Regions from separate parts of the Homo sapiens genome. Here region 2 is linked to region 1. The links come from fine-mapping of genetic effects on gene expression. A gene starts in region 1. The other region holds a variant in brackets. All regions are shown on one strand. Distances are between the middles of the regions. Region 1 holds the start of SLC25A5 (solute carrier family 25 member 5). Region 2 overlaps SLC25A43 (solute carrier family 25 member 43).

Region 1 (2,881 bases):
GATTCCCTGCAAAGTAGAGCCAAAACTGGGTTCTCTTGTCCACACCACCCAGGAAGATCTGCTTGTATTTATCTTTGAAGGCGAAGTTAAGAGCCTGGGTGGGGAAGTATCTGATGACATTGGCCAGGTTACCGCGCCAGAAGGACAGAACTCCCTGCTCCTTGGGAATACGGACCACGCAGTCTATAATGCCTTTGTATTGCTTATCTGCAGTGATCTGCTTGCTGGCATGCTGCACCTAACAGACAGGAAGGAAGCCAACAGGGACAGTTATAACCATGGGGAAGGGAAAGAGAAGAGCTTATGCCATCTCGATCAATGCCCTTTAAGGTAGGCTCCCCTCTCTCAAATCTAGTCTTCGTATATCATACTGGCTGGACCCTCCCAACCCTCTGAGGCTGTCACAGGGGAAGAGGTGATCTGCACCAGTAGCATTAAGCCTCCACCCCTCTGAGTGGAGAGGGGGCATCCTCCAGCGGACCCGTGACCTTCAGACCTAGGAGAAAGGTCATTACCTCAAACCCAGGTTCAGAGGCATTAGGGCGAGTCCCACATAGGGCGCGGTCACCTTGGGGACCGCAGCCTACGCCTCAAGTCTCCTGAGCTGCTTCCGTCTCGCTCCGCCCCCACTCCGCTCCCAGAGGTGACCCGAGCGCCGCCGCCGCCAGCCCTACACGCTAGCCCAGGAGCGCCCTCTAGAGCCGGCACTGGAGAGCGCGCGGCGCAGGGAGGCAGGCGGAGACGCGGCGGCAGCGGCCGCGGCTGCGCGGGGGCGGACGTAAAAGGCACACGCGCTTCCCGGCGCCGGCTTCCGGCCCGGCGAGGTTTGAGCGCGTCCGCGGGCTGGGAGGCCGCTGGACCCGGGCGCATGGCCTCCCCCGGGCAGTTATCTCCTTGCCGCGACCTTGAGGTCTTCGGTAAGAACTGGCGTTCCTCTTTCTAACGCCGGCTTTCGGCCTTCGCCCTTGACGCCCAGGCCCGGGGAGGCCGTCACTCAGAAACTGCTCCATCCGAGTCCGCCGCCTCGGAGATGCCGAGAGCCTGGTCCTGCCCTCTGCCCCCGGCCCCTTCCTAGACTCACTACTTCAGGTCACTAAAGGCGCCTCCCACCAGTTTGACTTCTGTTCTGCCTCTGCGCCCCGCTCTGGCCTCTCCTAAGCCGCTTCCCTGGCCATGTCTTTAGAGTTCGCTCCCCGCCACCCCTCGGGCGCCCGCCTTCTGTGCGACCCTTCCCCCCACTTCCTGGTTGGGCTCCTGGATCCCAGGACGTACCTGCAGCAGCAGCTTGACCCGCTCGATGGGCGCTACCGCCGTCTTGGAGATGGCTGCGGCCACTCCACCTGCCAGGAAGTCCTTGGCGAAGGACACAGCGGCATCTGTCATGTTGAAAGAGGAGGCAGACTGCTGCAGGACGGGACTGGGCCGGGAACCGGCTTTGACTCCGGCGCTGCGGGGCGGAGCGAAGCAAATGGCCGATTTATATAGGGGGAGCCGGAGCTGGAGCGGCAGGCGTCGGAGGCGGGGCCGGGGCGGGGTCTGGGCCCCGGCGCGCTGGGCGGCAGAGCCGCTGAGTGGCCCAGCTCGCAGGAGGAGGAGTCGTGGAGGGCGGGCCGGGACTGCTCTCCGCGCCGCCCGTGCTCGCCCTCGGCACCTGACCCGGCGAGAGGAAGGGGCGGGTCCAGAGAACACCCGGGACTTGAACGCTGGACCCTGAGAGAGGCCTCGGAGAGGGGAGGAAGGGTGAGGTCACGATGTGCCTGGACAAAAACCCTTGGAGCAGGACCAGGACTAGGGTGAGACGCATTTGCTACAGGGATGCCAAAAGAACCCTTCAGTCATCGAGATAAACAGTAGTCAATGCGATACTTTAAAAAAGTCGTATGGGCAAACTACATCCTACTGGCCGGCCCCCTTGTTTTGTAAATAAAGTTTAATTGGAGTGTCAAGGCTGGGTTTAGGGTGAGGCAAGCGAGACAAGGTCATGCAAGTGCAGGTTGGGATCCTGTCTGTATTTCAAATGTTGATCATTTGTTCATCATGGATTTTTGCATTGCTTCTGATTTTTTTAAAATAGTACATGAAAAATCATTTGTCTTAATTACTGAGTTGTTTTTCACCAAGGTGAATGCCTCACTCTTCCCACTCTAGACCGTGTGCTGTCCTGGAGCCAGTGAAACCAGACGAAATTAAGGGAACAGCAGACGAAGGAACTGCCACCGTGCCCCAGACCCTGGTTTGCAAATACAGTTCGACAAAGATCTTGCCAGGAATTGGCCTGGGAGAGTCCAAAGGACTGGGCTGGGGGTGGGGAAATGATTTTAGCCAGAAGACAAATATAGAGGTTGTACCCAGAAGGTTAAGAGGCTTAGGAAGGTTAAGAACTACGTTAACATTTGGCTCCCAGGACCCCAGGTAAAGTGCCCTTGGATTGAATAGATTTCTGAACTCCAGAAACATTTAGAGGAATCAATAGAATTAGATTGGCAGCCATTGTGCCAATGGACAAGTGCTTACTGAGCCCCTTAATCCCTTCACTGGGTAAGCATTTGCCACACATGTCCTCAAAAACCTACTTGTTAGCTTAAGTGGACTCCCTCAAGTTCAGAACAGGAGCAAATAGTGTAATCACAAGTTCCGTGTCTGAATAATCATAACAATGTTTATAAAAATAAGGACGACTGTTGAAAACTGCAACTGCAGCTGAACCTTATGTGCCCAGACTTCAGAATTCCCATAGGCAAAATGCCAGCAGGCCTTTGCACACTGAACACATAGTGTTCATATCCTTCACTTTCCTTTCCTGCCCTCTCCTATCTTCTCCAGATCTGCCTGTGAAAGGACCCAATTCTAGGACCCCCCAGGATGGTTAGGCCCTTCCTCT
Region 2 (2,910 bases), 50 kb after region 1:
AATCCCATATGGGCTGGGCTGGAGAGGATTGAAATGAGCACTGACTCTGGAGACAAGCTCCCTGGGCTTATATCCCAGCTCAATTACTGGATGGGTGAACTTGCAGGCTACAAAACCTTTCGGTGCCTCAGTTTTCTCATCTGTAAAATGGACTTAATAATAACAGTGCCCACCTTGTAGGGCTGTTGTAAGGATTAAATGAGATAATGAACATAAAGCACTTAGCACAGTGCCTAGTACATATTAATATTCAATGCTTAAGATCATTTTTAGAATTAATCCTGGAGACCAATGAGGAGATTACTGTAATAGCCTAGGTATGAGCTGATAAGGTCCAAGATTAGGGCAAGAGGCAGTGACAAAAAGAAAGACCAGCATGGGAATGTTAGGAATGAAGAAGCAACAGGGCTCAAGGTTAACCGGGTGAGGGGAAGGGGAAGAGTCAAACACAAGTTGTGGATTTCCAGCCTGAGTCACTGGGGCAATGATGGAATTGAAATGGAAAACTCTGGAATAACAGTGTTAGGAAAAGAAGAGGTCAGCTTGATGCACATTAAGTTAGAGGTGACAGTGGGGATATGATAGCCAAATAGTGATGTCGAGCAGGCTGTGGGAAATGTGGGACCATGGCTCAGAAGGGAGGTCAGGATTGAAGATGTAGATATGAACATGAAAAACTACAAGAGGGGATGAGCACCCTGAGAGGGAATGAATGAAGTGACTGTGTCCAATTCAACAAAGGTAACCCGAGGTGTCGAGCATCTCTATTTGAGTAGGCTGGGGCCTCTGTTTATTCACTGACCATGTATATTCTGCTCAGTCAGCTGTACCACTCGGATACCACCTTTGTCCTTCATCTTATGTGCTTTCAGTTCAAATGCTGACCTGGCCCAATCCTGCTTACCTTGTGAGCTGTGATGGGGTCAAAGTCCACTGGGGTATAAAGCAACAGGCTCACACTTGGTTTTATATTTGATGAAATGGAGACACCTAATATGGGCAATAGGGGAGGGTGTCAGGCAGAGTTGTGGGGGGACCGAGCATGTGTCTGGTACCTCCCTCCTGATCCTTTCAGAAGGCCTGCCAGATTCCAAGGCTCCTACATTCTCAGCTGCTCCCTGGATTTTCAGGGCAGTATTCCCCAGCCTATCTCCCTCTCTTCTTCACATGCACCTGTGCAGAGAGCCATTTTCTCAGGACTCCCTGGTTCTTATTCGGGGTGCACAGATTAATCAGATGAATTCATCTCTGTCAATATTTTACCCTTCCTACTTGTTCTCTCAATACACTAAGTTCTGCCATCTCTTCTGGCCCAGGCCCTGGGCTAGGTGTGGGAGATAGACAAAAAGGCCAGGCTATACCTGGAAGGGCTTGAGCTAAGATGCACTGAAGCGTGGAGAAGGGGATTTCAGGCAGGGTGGTTGGGGTCCGTGAAAGCACACCAAGTTGGGGGCACCTCATTCCATGTGTGCACAGGCCTGACCCACCCCCCTTCCCACCAGAAGCCATTCTATCAAGACATGCACATGCATAATTTATTTACCTCTCCATTCTCTAGCATGCCAGCCAGGAGCCAAGGCAAGAAAAGG[A/G]AAAAGGGATAAAATGAGTGTAAGCATGGTGAAGGAAGGGCTCAGCTGGTTAAACAAGACTTCTGATTACTGTCATTATGTTCAAAAGAGTTCCAACCTGATGTGCCATTAAATGGGCTGTGTGTGTCTAGAGAAAAGCATATTAAGAGAAAGAAACATCCAGACAAAGGGGCCAGTCAGTGCAGGGATCGAGAAAAATTCCCTGTGTAGCTCGTTATCCAACAGACACCTGCCATTGATTTGCTTCATGACAGGCAGTGCAATGGGGAAAGCCAATGGAATGCAAATGTTGCCATTAAGTGTGCTCAGGTCAGAGCAGCCCAGTGGCCCTGCAAAGGTCCCTCGTTACTTATTCTGCTGGCAAACCCTGCCTGCTCCAGCGAGGACAGACTGTTATTAAAGCCCTCTCTTCTTGGTGAATTTGGAGTGTGTGCTTTGTAGGACAAGTAACAGTAACAACAAAACCAACAAGTTTAGCATTAGCCTGTGGTTTCTAGGCCTCTTATTCTCCAAACCAAAGATGGATTTCAAGCAGGGATTATGAAGTTGTTAACTGGACAGAGATCACCGAACTTCAGGCTCCAATCAGGTGATGCTCAGCTACTCTCCATTTACTGCAGTGACATCTAATGGCCAGAGAAGCCCAATGCCATGTTTGCATTTAAAAGCAGCCTGCAGTTCTGTCTTGGGGGTGAATTTTTTTTTTAACATAGGGTGGACAAAGTATTAGTATGTTTATTAACCCCTGCAAAATAACACTTTCACTGAAACCCTAAAAGTTCACTTCCTATATCTTTGGATGACATTTATATTGTTATTCATAATTACATGTTGATCCTATTTTGTGAAAACAGTGCAATTACCTCTTTGGATTTTTTTTTTTTTTTTACAACCATCATGACTTTGCATCTATTTGAAACTTCTTCTTATGCTCTATATATGCATTATTTGGAAGGCTCCCATACGAGGAAAAAGATGATCAGGATTACCCCCAAATACCCACTTCTAGTGTATCTTACCCCAGTTTATAGTGGGTTGTTGTGGTAGGGGTATAGAATGCAGATGGTGTAGAATGCGGTGTTGGCTGGATTCTCCCAGATGAGGTCACTGTTCTAGCTCTCAGGAAGAGAAAGCAAAACTAAGGTTTATGGGGAAGACTGGGACCCTTACCCGTCCCATTTAGATGTCATTGAACTTCATCTGAAACCTTTTTCTTTTCTTTTCTCTTTTTTTTGAGACAGAGTCTCGCTCTGTCACCCAGGCTGGAGTGTGGTGGCACAATCTCAGCTCACTGCAACCTCCGCCTCCCAGGTTTAAGTGA

Evidence for each region. PIP is the estimated chance that this variant, and not a neighbour inherited with it, causes the effect. A credible set is the group of variants that fine-mapping cannot tell apart.
Region 2: its variant is the best candidate, but not a certain one, in a credible set for the expression of SLC25A5 in nasal epithelium (TOPMed, PIP 0.53).

What each region holds. Positions count from the first base shown.
Region 1 is chrX:119,467,018-119,469,898 of GRCh38, reverse strand. It overlaps SLC25A5 (solute carrier family 25 member 5), which reads right to left and starts at 1,455. Exons shown (of 4, transcript NM_001152.5): 1 at 1,273-1,455; 2 at 1-238. The coding sequence starts at 1,383. It overlaps SLC25A5-AS1 (SLC25A5 antisense RNA 1), which reads left to right and starts at 779. Exons shown (of 1, transcript NR_028443.1): 1 at 779-2,881. RefSeq lists silencers at 666-905, 1,396-1,775.
Region 2 is chrX:119,417,339-119,420,248 of GRCh38, reverse strand. The region is part of intron 3 of SLC25A43 (solute carrier family 25 member 43); the gene reads right to left. Among named protein-coding and RNA genes, the nearest start is that of SLC25A43, 19 kb to the right of the region's middle. The variant A/G (reference allele first, on the strand shown) is at 1,590.